Homo sapiens: one gene and its partners. The protein of the gene in region 1 purifies or fractionates together with the protein of each later gene. This does not show direct contact. Each region holds a gene or a part of one and is shown in the gene's direction. Other genes may lie near its edges. The genes, in order: CRYBB3, IQGAP3, ARMCX5, HELZ, TTF2, CDC42BPG and TCF7L2.

Region 1 (2,531 bases):
CTGGGAGTGTGGAGGCCCCAGTCTGAGCTCTAGATCTGTTGTGGGGCTTTTGACAGCTCCCCTGCCTTCTCTGGCCTCGTTTTCCGCATCTGTAAAATGAGAGTTGAAGAATTCTCTAGAATCCTAGATGTCTGCAGAAAATCCCAGGATACCTGAGGTTGGAAGAACAGCAAGGTCAACCTAGCACCTAACTCAGTGACTGGAACATGGGATTTAATATTTATAATTTTAATAATAATTGTAACACCTAAAATTTAACATGCATTATGTCATTGAATCGTCATGACCCTGTGACAGAGGTATCATTCTTATTCCCACTTTATAGATGGGGAAACTGAGGCCAAAGTTGGTAAGTGTCCCATCCATGTCCACAAGGCAGGCAGGTCTCCCAGCTGGGCCCTGAATTCCCGCCTTTGGATTGCAAGTCCAGGCTCTGGCACTAACCATCTGGGTGATCTTCGGCAAGTTGCTTCACACACCAGGCCTCTGTTTTCTCATCTGTTGAATGGGGATAACAATGGTACGTACTTCAGAGAGAGTTTTTATGAAAATGAATGGAATGATGCAAATAAATACATATTAATAACAATACAATACAAAGAAGAGGAAAAGGAAGAGGAAGAAGTCACTGTCACCTATGGAATACTTACTGTGTACCGGGCATTGTGCTAAAGACTTTTCTGGGTACCTTGCACAGAGGCTAGATTCTCAATAACATACCCTAGGATGGTTTTCTGGCCCAGAGTCTCAGACAGTTCCCGGTATGTCCTAGCAGCTCCTTTAATTACAGGTCCAGGAATTAGCAGTAGGGTTGGAGGGAGGGTACAAGGTTCAAGGTCAGCAGCTCTTGGACACTTCTCTCACTAAACTTGAATCCTTCCTCAGCTGCAGCAAAGGTGACCCAGCCAAGCCTCTTCCTCCCTCAGGTGGCTGGCATTTGAGTCCAGGGCCTTCCGCGGGGAGCAGTTTGTTCTGGAGAAGGGGGATTATCCTCGCTGGGATGCCTGGTCCAACAGCCGTGATAGTGACAGCCTTCTGTCCCTCCGGCCTCTGAATATTGTGAGTGTGGTTCCTGCTCACTTCTGGGTGTTCCTGGAAGCAGGGTGCACTGAGAGCTGGTCAGGCAGCTCATTGCACAAGCTGGGCTGAGGGTTTGGCCCATATGGACCTGGCCTGGGAAGGGCCCTCATGTTTCTGATTTGAACAATTGTGTGGGACAAGAAGTGGGATATTGAAGGGACATTCGGTTGGGGATTGAGACACCAGGACTCACATCTTGAATTAAACCAGCATAGCACTGGGACTTTTCTTTGTAACCGTACTAAAACGATGAGCCACATGGCCCAGTCTCAAATCAGTATTGTTATCAAAGAAATGCAGTCCAGGAAATAACTTCAGAAAGTAGCCAAAATACTTTAAGTTCTCCACTTGTGTTTTTCTAGCACCTGAAAGGGACACAGTCCACAGTGACACTTTTTATTTATTTGTTTATTTATTTATTTTTCGAGACAGACTCCTGCTCTGTCACCCATGCTGGAGTGCAGTCTTTCTCTCTCTCTCTTTTTAAACATTTTTATTTATGTATTTTTATTTCATTTTGAGTTGCAGTCTCGCTCTGTCACCCAGGCTGGAGTGCAGTGGCATGATCTCTGCTCACTGCAACCTCTGCCTCCTGGGTTCAAGTGATTCTCCTGCCTCAGCCTCCTGAGTAGCTGGGACTGAAGGCACATGCCACCACGCTGGGCTAATTTTTGTATTTTTAGTAGAGGTGGCGTTTTGCCATGTTGGCAAAGCTGGTCTTGAACTTCTGGCCTCAAGTGATCTGCCTGCCTCGGCCTCCCAAAGTACTGGGATTACAGGCCTGAGCCACCACGCCCGGCCCACAGTGACACTTTAAACACCACCCTTCTCCCTCCCCTGCTTCACTCACACCCCGCAGCTGCTCCAGCCCTTTCTCTTTGTCACATAACTGAGTCCTCCTTAGAGGGCAGTGGAAGAGGGGAAACTGGGAAGATTAAACCGGCATCTGGTTAGGAAAGAGGGAAAGCTCATATGTTGATACTTTTGATCTCTGTCCACCCTCTCCTGGCCTCAGTTTCTCTATCATTTAAATGATGGGATTGAACAAGATCTGGAAATTCCTTTTCAGTTTTATAATCTACGGCTCTAGGTTCCTAAATCAACCAGCTTTGGAGGAATCTCCCCGTCCCTCCTACAGTGAATTTGGGGGTGGAGGCATCTCCTGAGGCCCTTCCCTCCTGCAGCAGGTTTGGGGGTGGGTGTTATTTTGTGGTGACCTGTTGATTCTTTCCGGCATCTGGAGCCTCCTTGACCTCTGTTCTGGATATGGGAGCAGCCGCTCACCCCACGATATTGCCCTCAGGATAGTCCACATCACAAGCTGCATCTGTTTGAGAACCCAGCTTTCAGTGGCCGCAAGATGGAGATAGTGGATGATGACGTGCCCAGCCTGTGGGCTCATGGCTTCCAGGACCGTGTGGCGAGTGTCCGTGCCATCAACGGGACGTAAG
Region 2 (4,260 bases), on another chromosome or scaffold:
TCTCAGCCCCTGAGTCTCCTCTGTTCCTCTGAAGGCTCTAGGTATGGATTTCTGTTTTCTGTTCTTTCACATTCTCCTCTCCTACCTGCCCAAGCTATAAGCCTAGGCTGCTTGGTTGTTTGGATGGAGTGTGGGGAAAGGGTAAAAGGAGAAATACAAGATGGGGAAACCTATCAGATAATATTTTTTCAGCATAGTTGTTGGTGTCATAATTATTTTTTATTAGTTCAGGCTCTTTTTTTTTTTTTTTTTTTTTTTTTTGAGACGGCGTCTCACTCTGTCGCCCAGGCTGGAGTGCAGTGGCACAGTCTCAGCTCACTGCAACCTCTGCCTCCTGGGTTCAAGCGATTCTCCTGCCTCAGCCTCCGGAGTACCTGGGATTACAGGCATACCCCACCACGCCTGGCTAATATTTGTATTTTTACTAGAGATGGGGTTTCACCATGTTGGCCTGTCTGGTCTTGAACTCCTGACCTCAGTTAATCTGCCCGCCTCCGCCTCCCAAAGTGCTGGGATTACAGGTGTGAACCACCGTGCCTGGCCTAGTTCAGGCTCTTATTATCTCTCTTCTGTGCTACTGCAGTAGCCTTCCAACTGGTCTCTGCCCCTAGCCTCACCCCCTTCCAATCCCCTGCTATAAGATGGCTCTTTTTAAAGGACAAATCTGGCTCTGACCTATGTCTAAAGTGTTCCTTGGCTGGTGACTGCTCACCAGACCCCATGCCAGGGCCCTAGCATGGTGCCCAAGGTGCTACTGGACCTGGCCCTGTGCCTCCAGGATCCCTTCTGGCCTCTCCCTGGCTGAGCTTTGTTCTCCTCTAAAACTGAACCAAGTTTAAGTTCCCGAACTCACCTCCTCGTTCTTGCACATGCTGTCTCCACTGACTGCACTGCCTCTCTTCTTCAATCTGATGAATTCTCTTTCACTTCTCAACCCAAATCAGCTGTCACTTCCACCAGGACGTCTTCCCTGTCATTCGCTGCTCTTATTCACAGCAATGACCCCCTCCCTCTGTGCATCACCGACCTCTAATTTATTTGACTATATGTCTATCACTTGTGCCAGAACAGCAAACTCTTTTAGAGCATTCACTGCCCTCATACATCTCTGCATTCGCATCACCTAGCTTAGTGCATAGCGCCAAGTAGGCCCACAAGTTAGCCGGACTCGGGAACACATAGGAAGCAGAGTAGGGGTTAATGGGAATACTAGGTGGAGATGACAGAGGCAATGGCAGGGGCAGCAGCTAGAATAAGACTGTTAAGCAGAAAAGGAGCCTGGAAGGAACAAGACGAGGAACTGCTGTAAGGGGAGCGGTACTGCCCCGGCCTGGGGCGCCTCTTCTCCCAGCACCTGGGCGGCCCGGCTCCGCGGCCGGGAACTACAAATCCCAGGATTCTCAGCGGTGTGGACGGGAAGTGTCCTGTCTGGCGGTGCCGACGGTGAGGGGCGGTGGCCCAACGGCGGGAGATTCAAACCTGGAAGAAGGAGGAACATGGAGAGGAGAGCAGCGGGCCCAGGCTGGGCAGCCTGTGAGTGCGGAGAGGGTCAGAGAAGGGTCTCGCAGTGGTGCCGCTGGTCGGGGGCTTGGCTGTCCCGGGAGAGATTGGGGCGTGTGTCGGGCGTGAAGCCTGAGGGGCGAGGGCGGTGGGACTGCTCAGTGGGACGGGAATCCTCAGCCCGGGCGCCGTGGGCCCGAGTGGAACTGTGAGCGGCGCATTGTCCCCTGACTAATGTGCTGCGCTTTAAAGCTTACAAAGAACTTTCTTCCTATTTCCAAGTTCTGGGGTTCCGGAGTCGGGAGAATGTAGGTGATCCTAATGGCTCCTTGAAATTCAGCAGTTACTGCTGGCTACCAAACTTGCCCAGCGATGCCACCGGACAAGACGCCTCAAGGGATCTGGGGGACTCTTAGGCTTTGAGATGCCGCTTTCAGACAATGCCTGTCAAACAGGGGGTGAAATTACCCGGGAAGCTTGTTTGAGATGCAGATTCCTGGGACCTGTCCCAGAGCTTCAGTTCCAGAAGGTCTGGTTTGGGGCCCATAATCTGCATTTATAACAAGCACTGCTGTGCTTCTTCCCTCACCCCAGGTGATTGTGAGGAAGGTAGTCCCTGGGCCACATTTTCAAAGACACTGTTTTAGAGAGAGAGACTGGAGCTGGAAGGATGGGTGGGGCAGAAAGGTTCTATCTGATTTTCTGAATGAAAGGAAAACCTGCTCCTTCCACCACTCCCTTCCTTTCTATTAGGATTCAAAGAGCAAAGTCCATGTCCAGTCTTCTGTTAAAGGAAAACTAGTTCCAGACCTGAGAAGGACAGGAAAACTGTTTTTCGGTTTTTTATTTTTTTGAGACAGCATGTGTATGTACAAAATCCCTCCCATCGCCCACAGTCCTCAGTTCATAACTCTGAGATGATGTCATTCACTTACTGGTTTATTTTCCATGCTTAACAACCAACACTTGTTCCTTGTACACCCCCTTGGAGGAACTGATGGCTTTCCTGTGGTTGGCCAGTGTTTTCAAATCTGTATTTGGAGGGGTGTGTGTGTGTGTGCACGCATGTGTTTTAATTTACTTAACTGCTCATTCATATAAGCTCTGCCCTTCCCTGAATCATTGCAGAATATGCAATATAAGGAAATAGGATAACAACCGGGAATGACATTAAGTGCTGAGTCAAAGACAGATTGGCTAAGCTCTGCCTTTTTTCAAGCTCTCTGAGTTTATTTTCTTACTGTGTGTGTAGCTTTCTCTTACTCTTTCTGTTTGATTTTGTATTGTGTTTCTAAGGAGAATAGAGAGAGGGGAGAGAAGGGAGAAGGATTAAGGGAGACTGTAACTAAGGCAAATTATGATTGCTGTCTCACTTGAGGGATTCTCTATTCTTGAGTTTTGGAATCAGTACTCTGTATTTTATTTAGCTTGAAGATTCTTTTCCTCCTCGGGTGACCTATACCAAAAAGGATAGTGAAGATACCTTTGTGATCTTTTAAAATTTTCTTTGTCCTTCCACTTAATCCCAAGTGAGTGGCATGTTTCCCTCTGTTGGACTGCCTTTCCCTGTGTTCCGCCTATTTATTCCTTAAGATCTAGTTCATAGCTAGAATCCTTTGCTTCCTCTGCTGCTCCCATAGATTTTATGCATGGGCTATAATCATACTTATCATGTTAGATTAATTTATTCAGATGTTTTTCTCTTCTGATAATAATCTTTGGGCGCTGTGGTTCACGCCTGTAATCCCAGCACTTTGGGAGGCCAAGGCGGGAGGATCACTTGAGCCCAGGAGTCCAAGACCAGCCTGGGCAACATGGTGAGAACCAGTCTCAACAAAAAACGCAAGAATTAGCCAGACATGGTGGTGCGCACCTGTGGTCCCAGCTATTTGGTGGTGGGGGGGCTGAGGTGGGAAGATCACCTGAGCCCAGGAGGTCAAGGCTGCACTACTGCACTCCAGCCTGGGTGACAGAGTGACACCCTGTTTCAAAAACAAAACAAACCCACCAATATCTCTGTTGTCCAGGATGGAGTGCAGTGGCACGATCATGGCTAACCGCAGCCTAGACCTCCTGGGCTCAGGTCTAGGCCCAGTAGCTGGGAGTACAGGTTTGCACCATCACACCAGGCTAATTTGTGTATTTTTTGTCAAGACAGGGTCTCACCATGTTGCCCAGGCTGGTCTCAAACTTCTGGGCTCAAGCGATCCACCTACCTCAGCATCCAGAAGTACTGGGATTATAGGCATGAGCCACCATGCAGGCCTTTATCTCTGCATTTCTTAAGAGTAGGGGTCTGCTAGTCCAGTGCCTGGCATAAAGGAGGTATTGATGAATGAATGAATGAGTGAATGATGAATTCTGGTTGGTTCTATTACCTCACCTCTGAGAGAGTAACCAACGAGGATGACACAGGTCCAGTTCTTGGAGAACTCAGTCTAATTAGGGATAAGAAAAGGAGTTAAGTTTCAAGCCAAGGAAGGCTCTGGATGTCCCAGCTGGGAGGTACTGAGGGAAGTTCCATGAGTAGACTTGAGGAGGAAGAGGACAGGAAGATGGCTACAGAGGAAAGAGAAGTAATGCCTCCAGCACAGGAGGAGGCTGCCTATTAAAGGGTATCCTGGGAAGAGAAGGAGGGACACATGGGAGATGTTTCAGGTCTCTGAGCAGGGTTGCCTAAACAAGTCTGTTGAGAAGATGTTTCGGCTGGGCATGGTGGCGGCTCAAGCCTGTAATGCCAGCACTTTGGGAGGCCAAGGC
Region 3 (4,048 bases), on another chromosome or scaffold:
ACACCAGTCATAACGGCAATTAATACAAAGTTAAGAAACAAGAGATGCTGGCAAAGTTGCAGAGAAATGGGAACGCTTTTACATTGGTGGGAATGTAAATTAGTTCAACCATTGTGGAAGACGGTGTGGCAATTCCTCAAATATCTAGAACCAGAAATACCATTTGACCCAGCAATCCCATTACTGGGTATATACCCAAAGGAATATAAATCATTCTATTACAAAGATACACGCACACGTATATTCATTGCCGCACTATTCACAATAGCAAAGACGTGGCATCAACCCAAATGCCCATCAGTGATAACATTAAGAAAATGTGGTGCATATACACCATGAAATACCATGCAGCCATAATAAAGAATGAGATCATGTCCTTTGTAGGGACATGGATCGAGCTGGAAGCCATTATCCTCAGCAAACTAATGCAGCAACAGAAAACAAATACTGCATGTTCTCCCTTATAAGTGGAAGCTGAACAATGAGAACACATGTACACAGGGAGGGGAAAAACACGCACTGGGACCTGTCAGGGGTTGTGGGGGGCGGTGAGGGAAAGCCTTAGGAAAAATAGCTAATGCATGCCAGGCTTAATACCTAGGTCATAGGTTGATTGGTGCAGCAAGCCACCACGGCACACGTTTGCCTATTTAACAAACACGCACATCCTGCACATGTATCCTAGAACTTAAAAAAAAAAAAAAGAAAATGAAAATTAAGGGCTGGGAGGGAGGACTCGAAGGAACACAAAGTTTGTGGAATCGATTAGTATGTATCCTCCTATCTCAGTCTTGACTCTCTTTGCTGACTTTCCTACCCTGGGCCCCACCCCGAGACCGCCCATTTCAGTGGGCCTCTGTGTTTGGAGAACGAACTTCGAAAGACTGGAACACTTCCGCCTGTCAGGCCAGAAGAGATTTCCTGACACCACAGCTGGAAACCCATGTGCATTTCAGTTCAGGAAAGAATGGTAGGCTTGGTGGGGGGAGCTCCCGCAAAAGGGGAACTAATACAGAAACACTCTGGTATTTGTCTGCCTCTCTTGTTCCAGCGCCGTTTTCCCTATATCCGGAATTCGTCCCTGCGCATTCCAATACCTGAAGCGGCCACAGGGTACAGGACAGGGAGCCCTCCGACAGAAAAGAGTCGCGGCGCTAAACAAAGCCTGATATCACTCCGCTTCCATAAGCCGGATCCCCATAAACTACGCTCTAGCTCCTCCCACTGCCGTTGTGGGTAACGCGGACGTGGAAGAACCTCGTCTGCGGAGGAAAAGGTAGATGTTAAATGGTAACTACGCGCGAGGTTCTGAGGAGCCCTGGGAACAGGAAGGAGAAAAGAATACCAAAAGTGACAACAGTTTGCCAATCGCAGTCTTTAATCTGATAAAGCGGTTATCTCGTCTTGAGTCCCAGGTGCCGAGTCAATCCCCATACACAGCCGCCGCCATTGCCTCGAGTCCTTGTGTCTGACTGTCTGTTCCTGCTGCTGTATGACACAGCACCTCGAGGCAAGGAAATAAGAAAACTGCCTCTGATCCAAGCAGAGAAGGTCAGTGAGAAGGTGCGCATCGCTTGGGGGTGGATGTGGGTATCAGAGGTGAACACTGGATACGCGACCTGGTCATGGGAGGCGGGCGGTGAGAAGGAGAGAGAGATGGGTAATTGGAATGGCACACAACAATTAAAAAAAAATGATCTACCTTTTGCTAGCTTGATTTCCATACACTCGGTTCACCTCAGACCATGCTTGGGAAGAAAAAGGTTGCAGCTTCTAGCAGGGAAAAGGCAGACTAGATGAGGAAGAGAGGGCTACTTCCACAGGCGAGGACAGTTGTCTGGGGAGCCCTGAGAGGGAGAGAATGTAAAAAGAGGTTGTAAATGTTTGATAATCAAGGCTCTGGATTTGAAAAGGGTCTCATGTCTTGGTTACTGGTCTGACCATTAATAACCACGTCTCTCTCTCTGTCTTTTCATTTGTTCTTTGGGTGTGTATCACGCGTTTTTATGTGTAAATCTGTTCCTAAGTTTGCAGCACTCCATGTTTCTGTAAAGATCTGTAGGGGACAGCAGACCTCAAGGGGAGAGGAGAAGGAAAAGAAAATTGGCCTGGTTTGTACAGAGTGGGCAGTACTTGGGAGGCAGTACTTGGAGGTGGTAGATGGCTAAGATTAGAGTAGGCAGGAGTGTAAGGGAGCCTCCAGAACTCTCTGCCAGCTTTCCTAACATGTCCTCCCTTACCCGCATTATGTTGCAGAAAATGATAGGCTTTGGGAGAGAGGAAGGAAACATAGGAACCCAGATGAAATATGGAAATAAATACTTTTCATTTTTTCCCCAGCCTCCGTGGTTTGTCTAGGCATTTCGTCCCTACTAACACCACTACTACTACCTTGTAGGGATGTTTGAGTTGTCTCTGTATAGGAATTGTCAGACTTTGAGAATAGAGCAGAGGGGCTTGGAGATTTAGGAGTGGGAGAAAAAGGGGAGATAGAAAATGTTTGCCAAACAGGTACTTATATCCAGAAAGAAACTGTGCCCTAGGTGCTGGTCTCTACCAAAAACAGCCTCAACTGTCTCCTGTGTCTTCATTTATTGGTCTCTGTTTTTGTGAATCCCTGTAGGTAGATCTGTCCCCAGGTCTGTGGAACTGTCAGTTGTGAAGTTTTGTAAAATGGTCACCCAACTTAAAACTAGGAAATTACGAAGAAGAGAAAATTGCCCTGTATCTGTTAAGGTTGGTGTAAAGGTACAGGGACAGGGGGGCAACTTCGACTAGAGAATTCCATCTCTTCTGTTTTGTCATTTTACCAATTATTCCCATCTGCCCCACCCCCTGCTGCTGCTGATTTAGTTGGGAGTCTTGGTAAGTTGTGGGGGTACAGAATGCTAAGCTGCCTTTCCCACTCTCCACTGCTTGTCCTGCTCTCACGCTTGAACCTAGTCTAATCTGAACGAGGGACATTCTAGGGCAATCACTGAAGAGGAAGATGGTGGGCAATAGGAAGGAGGAGGAGGAGTAGCCCTGAAACAAAGCAGTGGGGGAGAGGGGATAGGAGGAGGGAAACACTAGACAAAATCTGGAAAGGCAAGAATAAGGGCAAGGGACCAAGGTCTGTCACCAGGAGATCAGTTTCCACATTCTCCTGTTTGTTTATTTGTCCATAGGTCTGCCTGTAGATCTGCTGTAGGGCTTGTCACCATTGGAAGCAAGGTAAGGAGGAGAAAGTTACTCCAGATCAGTGCAGGTTGGTATGAGTGTGGGGATTGCCTGGGTAGACCTGTAGGATGGAGTAGTGGAGAGCTGCTTGGCTCCAGCAGGGGTCAAGAACCACTAAAGGGATTCCTCAGCTTCTCATCCAGTTTTCCTACTCCTTATGCTCCTGTTTGGTGACTGGAAAGAAGGCTGATGGCACTTGGAAGTGTAGGGAGTGGGTGAAATGAAGGGAGAGAGAGTTTGCTAATTATCTACCTCTCTCACCTAGCACTGAATCACCATATTCTCCTGTCTCCCTGTGCTGATCAGCATGAGGAGAAAAAAGTTGGAAGAGACTCAAAGCCCCATTTCCTTCCTCCACCCCTAGGTCCTACTTCAGTGGCAGATCTGGTGGCCTTGGAGTGGCTGAAGACCACCACCCTCCACAGGGCTGGGCCCATGCACAGCCATCCTTCCCTACCTTGAGTGAGCTTCCTCTGCATGTTTTCTATATCACTGGCAGAGCCTGTAGTTGGAAAGGGGACAGAGTGACTACTGGACTTTGTGTGAAAACACCAACCGGGACAAAACTTCAGTCAAGGCTGAGACGGGTGGGGGTATATAACTTGTCCTTACGTTAAACTTGGAACATGGTTGACTCTGGGACAGAAGCAAGGGCTAGAGGAAAGGCTGAGGCTGGCCTGCAAGATGGAATCAGTGGTCCTGCCACTGCTAGAGTGAATGGTAAAACCCAGGCCGAGGCAGTGGCTGAGGCAGAACTGAAAACAGAATCAGTGACCCAGGCCAAAGCTGGTGATGGAGCAATGACCAGGACACATACAGTGACCTACAG
Region 4 (3,530 bases), on another chromosome or scaffold:
ACCTCAGGTGATCTGCCCGCCTTGGCCTCCCAAAGTGCTGGGATTACAAGCGTGAGCCACCATGCCTGGCCTTATCTTTTTTCTTGAAGCCTACAGATAATTTTGTGGAAAGGAGCCAGTGGTCTGCTTTTTGACTGTGGAGATGTTTGTTTGTAGTCTAAAATGGAATACTTAGAAGTAGGTAATCTTGTGTGGCTAGTGTTGTTTGACCTGAATTGTGTCAAGACATTTTCCACAGTTCTCACACATGTAGACTCTGTGAAGTGTTAGTATTCATTTCAAAGCGAAGTTAGTGGTTGGCCACTGAACAACTTGTTACACAAAGTATTCTAAAATGGGAAATGCCATAGTATTGAAGGTTGTGGTGAGGTAGAAGTCTGTGTCTCTGAGCTGAATAAAGACAGAGCTTTTTTAGTCTGTCCTTTTGGCTGGGAAGCTAGGACACTATTTTTAGGTAAGGCTGTAGTTTTTGGGAGTAAGTACCTTTCTATTAGCTGGTAAACTTGATTATTGCATTTGTTAACAAGAAGTTTTATTTTCTAATGCCATAGATATTAAAATGCATTGTCTTAAAGTTGGTATATATTTATAGACTGTCCAGTTTTCACTGGAAGAGGAGTGATGCCAAAACAACAGGAAAAGTCATTTTTACTTGCAAAGGGCCTCGTGTAATTAAAAAATCTACAGCATATTCATGAAAGGCTAAGAATAGTGCAGAGGGACCTACAAGTAAGTAGCCCAGATCTTACAGATGCATGTGTTCTCTATTTAAGCAGTAGGCTTGGCATTAATATTGAATGTAGATTAGTCTATAATTGTCTGTCAGAGACCCTAAGATCCAAATACAGGCCCCATACAAGAAATAAGGACCTTTGCCTGTTGTTTCAAATGTATAGAAGATTTCGGGCCAGGTGTATCAACAACAGTTATCCAAGAGATGGGGAGGAACTACTTAAAAAATTATAAGCAAATTTTTAGGTTTAATTTTCATAAACTTAGGTGAATATACATGCAGATGTAATTGGATTTCTAAGTAATGTTTTGAAATGTTTTCTAGAAGAAAAGTGATACAAGTGGAGAGTATGCCATACTATCTTACCATTCATTTCAGTTGATGAGTGCAGTCAGGGTTACTTCTGTAGCATTGGCTAGAAGCAGCATATAACATGATGGTTTATTGCTTTGAGGGTGGCTGGGATAATAGTTTTCAGTAATCTTGAATCTGTTAGAAGTGAATATTCCTCTTTTTAAAAGACCACTGTAGATGTAACAGGAAGAATTTTATTTATATATACATGTAATAACTATTTTGGTCAACTTTTAATTATTCAAAAGAAATGGAAAGTTTTTCAACTAATACCAACAGTCATACCAACTTGTTTACTTTTGTGAATTGTACTGGGTCAGTTTCTCCAAGTAAGAGCAGGAAGTTGTTTGGTAAAGCAGAGTGTATACATATATCTTGTCTTTGAACAAAAAAGAACTTGATTCATCGTCAGGTTCTTCAAAGAATGCATGGCATCTTTGTTGACTGAACTATTCTGAAGTGTGAATGTTTGTGATTTTTGTCATTTCTGTGCTATATTTTAGGTGTTCTTGTCACATCTGAATTTGCCTTTTTGCTTCCTTCTGCAGAAATTATCTTTGTTGTGATGAAAATGTCCTATAATGCGAGCTTCCTGTCAGTAGGCAACGTGTTTAACTAATACAGTTTTAAAAAATTATTTACTTTTATGCAAAACTCCTGTATGCTTATGGTAAACAAATTTGAGCAGTACTTATGTAAAGTAAAAAAGGTTAAAAAAAAGAAAAGCCTCTGTTCTTCTTCTGTCTCTAGTCCTGCTCCCTTGAGCTGAATCTGGCAAACAGCTGGGTGTCATTTAGCTTTTGGAAGACCTCTCTATTCCTGAGATATTCTGGCAGTGTGGAAGTAGAGTGAGAAGTCAGAAAAGGCATGGTCATTGAACCAGAGTTTGGATGTTGTGCAGGGACTATTCTGTTCTTATTTTCTGTGATAAGTAATAATGATAAACTACCATCAGCTTAAGATAACTGTAATTTGAATTGTGAAACATGAAAACAGTTAGTTCTTTAGTCAGGTTGGTAAAGTTTTGATTTGTTGATCTTTTAAAAGAAATATGCATGAATTGAATTCATGTAATGTTAGGGCTGGTGGGGGTTAATGGTAGTAATGAATTACCATCTGTTGAATTTTAGGATAAGCTGCACAGTATATTTACTATAGGCTTTTTATAACTCATCATCTCCTTTAATTCTCATAGCAACTCACGAGATAGTTATTTCCATTTTACAAAGGAAGAAATTCAGGCTTAAGTGTGACTCAACTAATGTAACGTCACGAGACCAGTAAAGTAGTGGAGCTGGTGTTCTTCCTGGAAAGCCTGTGCTCTTCTTTCTCTAGCTAGTCTAAGTGACTTATTTTCCAGATAAGGAAATATAGGCCTGAAGAAATTAAATGAGTTGCTCAAGGTCACACAGCTCAGTAGTAGCAACATTAAACCAAGCTTGTTTTTAATCTTTGGAGGCTTATCTCAAGACTCTTGGTCTAGTGCTGGTCATGCTACATTTTATTGAACTAGTGTGGACCAAAAGACCATATGCTGGGAATATTGGATACAAATGCTTTGGAACTGATATCTTGGTGAATGGTGTTTTCTACTATGTATTAAAAAAACTTTCTTCTTTGTCTTTCAGAAATTATAAAGAGCTCTGATGGGCTATTTGGGTGATACCCAGTGCAGTGAACTGCAGGTGAGTAAGGTTTAGAACTTTATTTAGAAAACAAGAATTTTATAATGCCTGAAAGAATAAGGTGGGACAAGGGTGAAGTGATACAGGGCTGTAGTGAAACAGTGGTAACCTGAAGGCACAGATCCTAACGGAATCGGTTACTTCTGGAACAGACTGAATGATGAACAAGCTCCGAAGAGACTGCCTGCTGCCTTGTCAGGTTAGTGTGTGAAATGAGTGAGGGTAGGTTAATCTTCCACTTCTGTTCAGATGAGTAACTGCATAGGGGCTCAGCTTATCTGCGTGCTATTGGAACTTGAGAGGTCCTTCAGTTTTTGTGTCAGCATTCTTGAGTGGCGATTACTTTGTGCTCCAGTGAACTTGGTTAAGTATTGAATTGTTTTTCCTGTTATCTGCTATTTACATAGTGTCATGAATGACTGTATATATCTGCAGTTTTGAGGATCTAAATATGGAGAACATATCAATAGAAACAAAAGGTTGAACTTTTTTTCCTAGTGGTTGTACTACCTCTATTGATACTATTAGTCTTTCAGATTATTTACTTTTTGCTGAAATACCTGTTAATTAAAAACAGTTTAGTCTTGAGTATTTATTATTTCACAGTAATTAATCTTCTTGGTCAGCTATGGTGTCTTCGTCTTTCATTATTACACTTAGAAAATGGTAATACTACAGAAATAAATTAGAAGGCTTTTAATACTTTCCTTATGAGGCATCAGAGTTAAAATTATTATTATTTTTTTGAGACGGAGTTT
Region 5 (2,658 bases), on another chromosome or scaffold:
CTCGACAGAATTGACTTCATGGAAGGTATGTAGTTTGACTTTGCCTTAGCCATGTTGATCAAATAGGAGTATTGTGCATGCCGCAGCTAGACAGAGTCCTGGGCCCTTTAAAAACCTTGTCAGTGACTCCCATTGCAGGCCCAGCGCAGTGGTTCACACCTGTAATCCCAGCATTTGGGAGGCTGAGGCAGGCAGATCACTTGAGGCCAAGAGTTCGAGACCAGACTGGCCAACATGGCAAAACCTCCTCTCTACTAAAAATACAAAAGTTAGCCAGGCGTGATGTTGGGTGCCTGTAATTGCAGCTACTCGGGAGGCTGAGGCAGGAGAATCACTTGAATCCAGGAGGCGGAGGTTACAGTGAGCTGAGATCATACCACTGCACTCCAGCCTGGGCCACAGAGAAAGAACGGTGATTCTTTCTAGCAGAAATTAGCAGAGTAAGTGTTTTTGGAACAATTGCTAATGAAAAGAAGGAAAAACAGAAAAAAAAAATTTTCTGTTTATGGGAGGTGACTTATTTCTCTATCAATCCTGTGAGTGATTTAGCATGGCAATTCATGAACACTGAGTTGTTTCCTTGCTCTGATTGTCTGTTGCTCAATGAAATGGCTTTTAGCAGGGCTCAAAGGTGAAGCCAGATTCTCCTGCACTAATAGGATAAGCATGGAGACACCAGTGTTCAGTGTGGCCTCTGGTTGTCTGAAATTTTGCTGTCAACTCTAATACCTTGAAAGAATTAGGTTTCCAAAGTGGGATATTGTGCTGCTGTTTGTGATATAGCATCTAGACTTAGGAAAGGGCAGGAACAATTTAAAAGCACATCTGTAGGCACAAAGAGAATTATAATAGAAATTCAGAATTCCTAGGCATATGACCTAGACTAAAATGTCTTCATAACTACAAATGAAATCAGGGTCATTTATAGTACAAACTACCACAGAAGTCAGTAGTTAGGGGATGGAGATAGATATGAAAAAAAAAAAAAGCAAACCCAGCCTAACTCCCAGGGAGGGAAGAGGGGCGACAGATATGCAGCTACACAATGTTTTTACTATCTTGAGTTCTTTTTACCCAGATTCCATAGCTAAATCCAGATGTATTAATAGGTAGAGACTACTTCAGAAAGGATGAGACTATTTTCTTGCTTAATTATCCACACAGTAATTCAGAAATGTATATTGAACACTTTTTATATGCCAGGCACTGCTGGGCACTGGAAATATAAAAGTAAGCAAAAATGAAAAACTATCCTGTCCTCCTGAGGCTTAGCATCTAAGGGAGACAGGCATTAGTCAACCCCGTGTGGCTGTGAATCAGCCATGATGCTGAGTGCTACAAGAGAGGACTGTGCGGCTGGGAGGGCTTATAACAGGATTTGACCTAGTTAGGGAAGATCTGAGGAAGTGATGAAAGAATGGAAATCAATATGTAAGAGCTCACAAGTCAGAGTGAGATGTTTCTTCCTATACTGCCTGCTTCTAATGAGCATCCACTTCATTGAACCACCTCTTCATTGAGCCAAACCTACCATACAGGGATACATTCTCTGGAGGAAAGTTGAGCAACTATTGCATTTGGGACATTAGAGTATGGGTGGGCTGACAGGTATGTGTATGTTTATTATCCAAGACAGCCAAGGTGTTTATCCTGTTACAACATCCCAGAGGACAGAGGCTCTTATTTGTGACTCTTTTTTCTTACCTGTAACACCAGAGGCATAACGTACATCATAATGCTGCATCTTGTTGACGCTTCAATGCTCACAATTCAAAGGTGATTTCTGAAGCACTTTGTTACACTGGGGACAGCTCCTAAATCCTCCCACTCTTTTTTTGCCTCACCTTGGAGTCTTGGGCTCTGTTGATCACTGACTCTGCCAGGTCTTTCAGCAGGCAAGACAGCTCAGTTAAATTGAGTTTGGACTCCACTGTAGTGCATGCATGAGACAGCACCCCCAATCCCCAACACCCACACACAAACTTTAAATATTTGTAACAGAATTGTTACCATTAATATTGCTTAAAGGCTAACACATTAGCCAGAACCTAGATGTCTTCTGGAAATTTTTTATTGCAATGTTACTTCATCTACATAAAGTTGTCCAATCACTGAAACCTCCAACTGAAATAAATGGTAAGCTTTTTGTTCTCAATTCTGAAATCAGATTCATTAAAAGGCACATGGGGATAGATGATATAATACAACAGGCTTCTTCATGGGAAGCAGTTCCCTAGATGTATGAGGTAATTGGAAAATTCAAGGCTGGTCTCTCAGGTGCATATAATTTATCCAACAGACTCGAGATAAGGCTGATTTTTTTTCCAAGTGGTATTTGTTTAAATGACAAATACTGAGGTTCGGGAGAAGGGAAGTCTGGCTTATAAAAACAGATACCAAGGAGATCCAAACTAAAAATTCTACCAATTAGATCTTTATTCACTGATCATAATATTAAGTCTCTACTATGTGCCAGGAACTGTCCTACATCGGGACAGTATGGTAGTTTAAAAATATCCCTGCCCTCATAGAGCTTACAATCTAATATGAGAGGACAGACAACAAACAGAATATATACATGTTGGCCTGTAATCCCAGCACTTCGGGAGGCTGAGATGGCCAGGAGTTTGAGACCAGCCTGGGCAACATGGCAAAACC
Region 6 (3,530 bases), on another chromosome or scaffold:
ACTGCAACCTCCGCCTCCCAGATTCAAGCGATTCTCCTGTCTCAGCCTCCAGAGTAGCTGGGATTGCAGGCATGCACCACCTCGCCTGGCTATTTTTTGTATTTTTAGTAGAGACGGGGTTTCAGCATGTTGGCCAGGCTGGTCTCGAACTCCTGACCTCAGGTGATCCACCCACCTTGGCCTCCCAAAGTGCTGGAATTATAGGCATGGGCCACCGTGCCCAGCTGGAACAAAGGCTTTAGAAAGAGAGAAACGAAGGTTCAGTCCTGGCTGTCTCACTACAAGCTGGGGGACTGGGGGAGCTGCTGTAGAACCACCCAGAGCCTCATAACATCTCCTGGGTGGAGCTGCGAAGAGCTTCACTTGTGCTCAGCCTTGAACCTGGGGCTCAGCAGGGCTCTTCTGTAACTAAGGCTGGGAAAGAGGCATGAAACAGAGCTCCTTGGCGTTCCCCAGCAGCTGAGGCCCTGAGCCAGGCCCGGCTCTCAGGGCGGGAGACACAGGAGAGGTTGTGCGGGTCCCTGGAGCAGTCGGGAACCAGAGGGGAGGGGATTTATTGAGCAAGGGGCTCTGCTGAACCCTCCCCTGCATCACTTCCTCGCTTCCTCAGAGTTGCTCTGTGAGGAAGTACCATCGTTGTCCCCAGTTTACATAAGGAAACCAAGGCTCTGAGAGGTGACATGACTTACCCAAAATCCCACAGCTCAAGATGATGGGCCTCACCCCAACCCCTCTGGAAAAGCCTGTCCAGACTGGGAGAGAAGGGTCAGTGAGGCAGGGACAGCGGGATTATTGCCACCCCCATTTCCTCAAGATAAACAGGCACAGCAGGGCAGGTGGACTGCCCAATCTCCGTGTCATTGAGTGGGACTGCTGACCTCTGACCCTCTGCCTCCCTCTACCAGACCAGGATCGACTTGCGCTTGGCACCGAGGAGGGGCTCTTTGTCATCCATCTGCGCAGCAACGGTACCTATCAAAGCTGGGCTAGGGTGGGCGTGGGCAGGGGCAGCCCCAGCGGGCAGAGGAGGATGGGGATGGGTCACTCTTCAACCACCTGCCAGTGACACTCTCCCCTCGCCAACCCTGCAGACATCTTCCAGGTGGGGGAGTGCCGGCGCGTGCAGCAGCTGACCTTGAGCCCCAGTGCAGGCCTGCTGGTCGTGCTGTGTGGCCGCGGCCCCAGCGTGCGTCTCTTTGCCCTGGCGGAGCTGGAGAACATAGAGGTAGCAGGTGCCAAGATCCCCGAGTCTCGAGGCTGCCAGGTGCTGGCAGCTGGAAGCATCCTGCAGGCCCGCACCCCGGTGCTCTGTGTAGCCGTCAAGCGCCAGGTGCTCTGCTACCAGCTGGGCCCGGGCCCTGGGCCCTGGCAGCGCCGCATCCGTGAGCTGCAGGCACCTGCCACTGTGCAGAGCCTGGGGCTGCTGGGCGACCGGCTATGTGTGGGCGCCGCCGGTGGCTTTGCACTCTACCCGCTGCTCAACGAGGCTGCGCCGTTGGCGCTGGGGGCCGGTTTGGTGCCTGAGGAGCTGCCACCATCCCGCGGGGGCCTGGGTGAGGCACTGGGTGCCGTGGAGCTTAGCCTCAGCGAGTTCCTGCTACTCTTCACCACTGCTGGCATCTACGTGGATGGCGCAGGCCGCAAGTCTCGTGGCCACGAGCTGTTGTGGCCAGCAGCGCCCATGGGCTGGGGTAAGGCCTGCTGAGGGCTTGGCAGGGGGGCCAGGCACCTTCAGTGGGTGGGTGAAGACAGGGTCCCGCCTCAACTCATGAGCCTGGCATTGGAGGCCTTTGGTGCCAGTTTGCATCCTCCAGCCCAACAACACCCTGTCCCACCCTCTGTGGCTTGCAGGGGACCTTCCTTTTCCATGGCTGAGCTCATGCTCCTCTCCTGCCTGAGCCGCTCTCCTTTTGTTTCTATCTAGCAAACTTTTTTTTTCTTTTGAGACAGGGTCTCTGTCTGTCACCAGGCTGGAGTACAGTGGCACAATCTCGACTCACTGCCACCTCCGCCTCCTGGGGTCAAGTGATCCTCCCACCTCACCCTCTCGAGTAACTGGGGGCACAGGTGTGTGCCATCACGCCTGGCTAATTTTTGTTTTGTTTTGTTTGAGACAGAGGAGTCTCACTCTGTCGCCAGGCTGGAGTGCAGTGGTGTGATCTCGGCTCACTGCAACCTTTGCTTCCCGGGTTCAGGTGATTCTCCTGCCTCAGCCTCCCTAGTAGCTGGGACTACAGGTGCACGCCACCACACCCAGCTAATTTTTGTATTTTTAGTGGAGACGGGGTTTCACCATGTTGGCCAGGCTGGTCTCAAACTCCTGACCAAGTGATCCACCTGCCTTGGCCTCCCAAAGTGCTGGGATTACAGGCGTTAGCCAACGCGTCCAGCCTAATTTTTGTATTTTTTCAGAGATGGGGTTTCGCCATATTGCGCAGGCTGGGAGTCTCAAACTCCTGAACTCAAGCAATCCTCCCGCGCGGCCTCCCAAAGTGCTGGGATTACAGGTGTGAGCCACCGGCCCCGGCCTGTACCTGGCAAACTCTTAACTAGGTACCACCCCAGTGTCAGCTCAGGGCCTGGAGCTGGTAGGCGCTCCAAAGATAACCGCTGCGATTGCTGTGGTCACCATTGCCTTCGTGCTCCCCGCCCTGCTTCCCCGTCATTGGTCCTTTCCTTCTCTTTGCCCCACTCTCTCTCCGTCCAGACCTGTGTCACGGCTCTCATCGCCTCCACTTCATGACTGGCTTGGTGCACTGGGGTCCCACAGAATGGGCCGGGGCTGGTTTCCTCATCCACATCAAGCCCCCAGCCCAGGGTGGCACACTCCAGGGGCGATGGGCTTGGAGGAATGAGTGGAAGAGTGAATGAATGAATGAATGAGGCAGTGGGGCAGTCTGGTGCATGCACAAGTAACTAGCATGATGGGTAAGGGCTGGAAGAGAGGGGCAGAGTGTCCTTCGTGAGCAATGGCTCTTTGGGGTGGGGCCTGCAGGTTGGGTGCCGCATATCACCCAAGCTGCCCAGGGCCAAATCGCAGCTCTCAGGACCAGCTGAGTGACCTGACCTTGACCATCACATGGCTCCAGGGGTTCCATTCCCTCATCTGGAAATTAGGGATTATAACAGTAGTACTTGCTCAGAGTTGTTAGAAAATTAAGGCAGGAAAAGCATGTCGTGTTTAGAACTGAGCCAGGCATGTGGTGAGTGGTCCAGGGTTATCTCTGATTTGATGTGGAGGCTGGGCCGGGCGACAGGGAGTCTTCAGAGGAAGGACCTTAGCGTGGGGCATGGTAGTTACTGTGCTGTGGCAGGGGACAAGGTGTTCCCTGTGGAACAGAGGGGGAAACAGCTCAGAGGTGCCTGGCGTGCCCGCAGGGTATGCGGCCCCCTACCTGACAGTGTTCAGCGAGAACTCCATCGATGTGTTTGACGTGAGGAGGGCAGAATGGGTGCAGACCGTGCCGCTCAAGAAGGTGAGGGTCCGCCAGAGCCCTGGGGTAGCGCCGGGGGTGGAGGCGTGGCCTGAC
Region 7 (2,496 bases), on another chromosome or scaffold:
GAGGAAGGTACCAGAATGCTCCTAGCCAATCAGGGCTTCTAGCTTGCCACACAAGGTTTCTAGTTTCATTTGACATTTGTGGACATTTTAACAAGATTCTGTTTTGAGCCCACCAAGTTGCTTTTCCCATCTTTTCACTCTGCCCTAATATAGCATGGAATGCTGCTTGGTGCTGTTCCCTTGTCTTCCTGGTTGTTCTCCCTGCTTCTTTCTTTCTCCCTTTCCTTTCCTCTCTCTGTTTTTCTCTGTTGCTTTCTCAGTTTTGCTTATGCCCTCCCCCTCCCCACCTCCTTTCCTTCTCCCATTTTTAAAATGCATGGACATCTTAGTTTTTTGAGCATGTTTTGATCTGCAGGCTAAGGTGGTTTAAAACTCTGAGAGGCTTAATTATTTATCTTGGTTTCTGGGATGGAAGCAGAACCCATAGTCTATTTACTCTCTCCCAGGGAGAAAAAGGAACCTTGCCAAATTGAGGGTGAGAGGGGGTGGTGCTTGCTCCCCTAGAGTTCCTTCTGACCCAGAAGGAACAGACAGACCCTGAGGCCACTAGCCCCCATGAATCTCAGCCTCTGGGAGGCAGGGAGGACTGAGCATGCTCCCTTACACCCCTCCCCTCCTTCCCTGCCTTCCTGCCATCTTGCTGAGTCCAAACCCCAAGCACAGAGGGGCATGATCAGACAGCTCTGGGGCACAGACTGAGAGGAGGAACTCAGCACACCCTTCCTTTCCAAGGCCAGTGACATTGTCTGACAGTGGTTGCCTTCAAGCAGGCAGCATCTTGGTTGCTTCCAGCGGCAGAAAGCTGGCCAGTGCTTACACACGTGTTTCCAGTTGGAGTGTTATCAGCCATGGTTCTGACAATATTCTAGGGTCCTTAGATGAGCACACTTCCTGTATCTGCATTATTTTTATAGCATTAGTGGGGTTGATCCCCAGGCTCACCTTTCCTTACCAAATACCATCCCATCAGACTGGGATTAATGGGAGGAGAAGCTTTGAAGTCACATGCTCAATTTCTTGAGTTGATTTTCCCCGACCTCATCCTTTGATGCTAAGCAAGAAGGGCTCTGAAATTCTCATTCCTATTTCTTACATGAATGAGTAGTGAAGAGGGGAGATGCTGGTTTTGGTGCAGGGCAAAATTAGTCTTTCTGGTTTAAACACGAATCACGATAACCCAAACCCAGGAAGGTCCATGCTGCGATTCCCTGGCACTTCTTCTTTGTAGTCACTTCGGTGACCGGCTTGTGCTGCACCCTCCATTGACTAGCCTTGGCATATTGACAAGAGCAGGATGCCCCTCCATCCATCCCATCCTCACCATCTCTCCTTCCAACCTTCTCACTACGGGGTGGGGGAGGGGAAAGCCCCAAATCTTAAAAAAAAAAAAAAAATCAAGTTTGAATCTTAATTTAATCCACAACCTGCAGGCCATACAACCAGTTATTCTCGTTCCTTTGAATCATTTTCTGTTTTTCTTATTCTTCCCCCTCCCCCACCTTTGTTTATCCTCTTCTACCTGTTTTTGGTGGTTTCTTTTTTTTGTTTCGTTTTTTGTTTTTTGTTTTTGTTTTAAGTTTATTTTGTTTTATTTTTGTTTCCCTTCCTCCCTTCTCACCTGATTCTGACCTCTCTTGATTTGGTGTGGTTCTTAACAGACAAGCCCGAAAGCTCTCTGGGCGCCAGCAGCCTCATGGTGGTGGTGTGTTAAAACCTTTAAGCCTCTTGCTAGCGCTGCCTTCAGCTATGTGGGCTCAACAGTGAGCATTTTGAGAGTTTCATATTGATACGAGGCGGCTGGGGAAGGAGCTCTGTCTTTCTCTTTTAAACACACACACACTCACACTCACACACTCACACACACACATCACTGGGGGATGGGGGTGGTAGTGGTGGGAATGGGAGTGAAGGGCCGAGGAAACTTGATGGGAAAGTGAGGGACTGTCTAAGCCAAAAGAGCTTTTCAGTTCTTCTCAATTTGGACAAAGCCACTTTTTGGCAAATAGATGCCACCATCTGCAGGTGGCCGCCTCCATGCTGCTCTCGTATATAATTTGGGCATGGTGGGGCATGGGTGTTTAGTAGGGGTTGGGGGAAGCAAGTAGAGAGTTCAGACTCTTAAATAAGTTGTTTGCCAGAGCAGGCTTAGATCTGGGCACTGTGAAGTAAGCGACCCACCCTGGGGGGGCGCCACTGTAATTGTCCTCGGACCACTGGGCGTGCCACCTCTGTGGGACATCCCTTAGGTGACCTCAGCTTGGGTGTGAGCATTAGGTAACTCTCTCCCTTGGCATCTGTGCCCTCTATTCACAGATAACTCTCTCCCCTGTTTCTAGGAGAAAAAAAAAGTGCGTTCGCTACATACAAGGTGAAGGCAGCTGCCTCAGCCCACCCTCTTCAGATGGAAGCTTACTAGATTCGCCTCCCCCCTCCCCGAACCTGCTAGGCTCCCCTCCCCGAGACGCCAAGTCACAGACTGAGCAGACCCAGCCTCTG

The links.
Region 2: the proteins of CRYBB3 (region 1) and IQGAP3 purify together in Homo sapiens (affinity purification with mass spectrometry; one large-scale study listed by BioGRID and IntAct). This does not show direct contact.
Region 3: the proteins of CRYBB3 (region 1) and ARMCX5 purify together in Homo sapiens (affinity purification with mass spectrometry; one large-scale study listed by BioGRID and IntAct). This does not show direct contact.
Region 4: the proteins of CRYBB3 (region 1) and HELZ purify together in Homo sapiens (affinity purification with mass spectrometry; one large-scale study listed by BioGRID and IntAct). This does not show direct contact.
Region 5: the proteins of CRYBB3 (region 1) and TTF2 purify together in Homo sapiens (affinity purification with mass spectrometry; one large-scale study listed by BioGRID and IntAct). This does not show direct contact.
Region 6: the proteins of CRYBB3 (region 1) and CDC42BPG purify together in Homo sapiens (affinity purification with mass spectrometry; one large-scale study listed by BioGRID and IntAct). This does not show direct contact.
Region 7: the proteins of CRYBB3 (region 1) and TCF7L2 purify together in Homo sapiens (affinity purification with mass spectrometry; one large-scale study listed by BioGRID and IntAct). This does not show direct contact.

The regions. Positions count from the first base shown.
Region 1 is NC_000022.11:25,202,837-25,205,367, forward strand, and holds part of CRYBB3 (beta-crystallin B3), read left to right. Parts: intron 1-926; coding exon 927-1,059; intron 1,060-2,383; coding exon 2,384-2,526; intron 2,527-2,531. UniProt on the Homo sapiens protein: Crystallins are the dominant structural components of the vertebrate eye lens.
Region 2 is NC_000001.11:156,569,766-156,574,025, reverse strand, and holds the start of IQGAP3 (ras GTPase-activating-like protein IQGAP3), read left to right. Parts: upstream 1-1,460; 5' UTR 1,461-1,496; coding exon 1,497-1,533; coding exon of another isoform or gene 1,534-1,548; intron 1,549-4,260.
Region 3 is NC_000023.11:102,598,297-102,602,344, forward strand, and holds the start of ARMCX5 (armadillo repeat-containing X-linked protein 5), read left to right. Parts: upstream 1-1,218; 5' UTR 1,219-1,551; exon of another isoform or gene 1,552-1,563; intron 1,564-2,623; 5' UTR 2,624-2,736; intron 2,737-3,167; 5' UTR 3,168-3,213; intron 3,214-3,583; 5' UTR 3,584-3,845; coding exon 3,846-4,048.
Region 4 is NC_000017.11:67,238,675-67,242,204, reverse strand, and holds part of HELZ (probable helicase with zinc finger domain), read left to right. Parts: intron 1-2,715; 5' UTR 2,716-2,772; intron 2,773-3,530. UniProt on the Homo sapiens protein: May act as a helicase that plays a role in RNA metabolism in multiple tissues and organs within the developing embryo.
Region 5 is NC_000001.11:117,105,299-117,107,956, forward strand, and holds the end of TTF2 (transcription termination factor 2), read left to right. Parts: 3' UTR 1-2,155; downstream 2,156-2,658. UniProt on the Homo sapiens protein: DsDNA-dependent ATPase which acts as a transcription termination factor by coupling ATP hydrolysis with removal of RNA polymerase II from the DNA template. May contribute to mitotic transcription repression. May also be involved in pre-mRNA splicing.
Region 6 is NC_000011.10:64,827,632-64,831,161, reverse strand, and holds part of CDC42BPG (serine/threonine-protein kinase MRCK gamma), read left to right. Parts: intron 1-814; coding exon of another isoform or gene 815-884; exon of another isoform or gene 885-905; coding exon 906-968; intron 969-1,091; coding exon 1,092-1,691; intron 1,692-3,378; coding exon 3,379-3,476; intron 3,477-3,530. UniProt on the Homo sapiens protein: May act as a downstream effector of CDC42 in cytoskeletal reorganization. Contributes to the actomyosin contractility required for cell invasion, through the regulation of MYPT1 and thus MLC2 phosphorylation.
Region 7 is NC_000010.11:113,163,219-113,165,714, forward strand, and holds part of TCF7L2 (transcription factor 7-like 2), read left to right. Parts: intron 1-2,336; coding exon 2,337-2,496. UniProt on the Homo sapiens protein: Participates in the Wnt signaling pathway and modulates MYC expression by binding to its promoter in a sequence-specific manner. Acts as a repressor in the absence of CTNNB1, and as activator in its presence.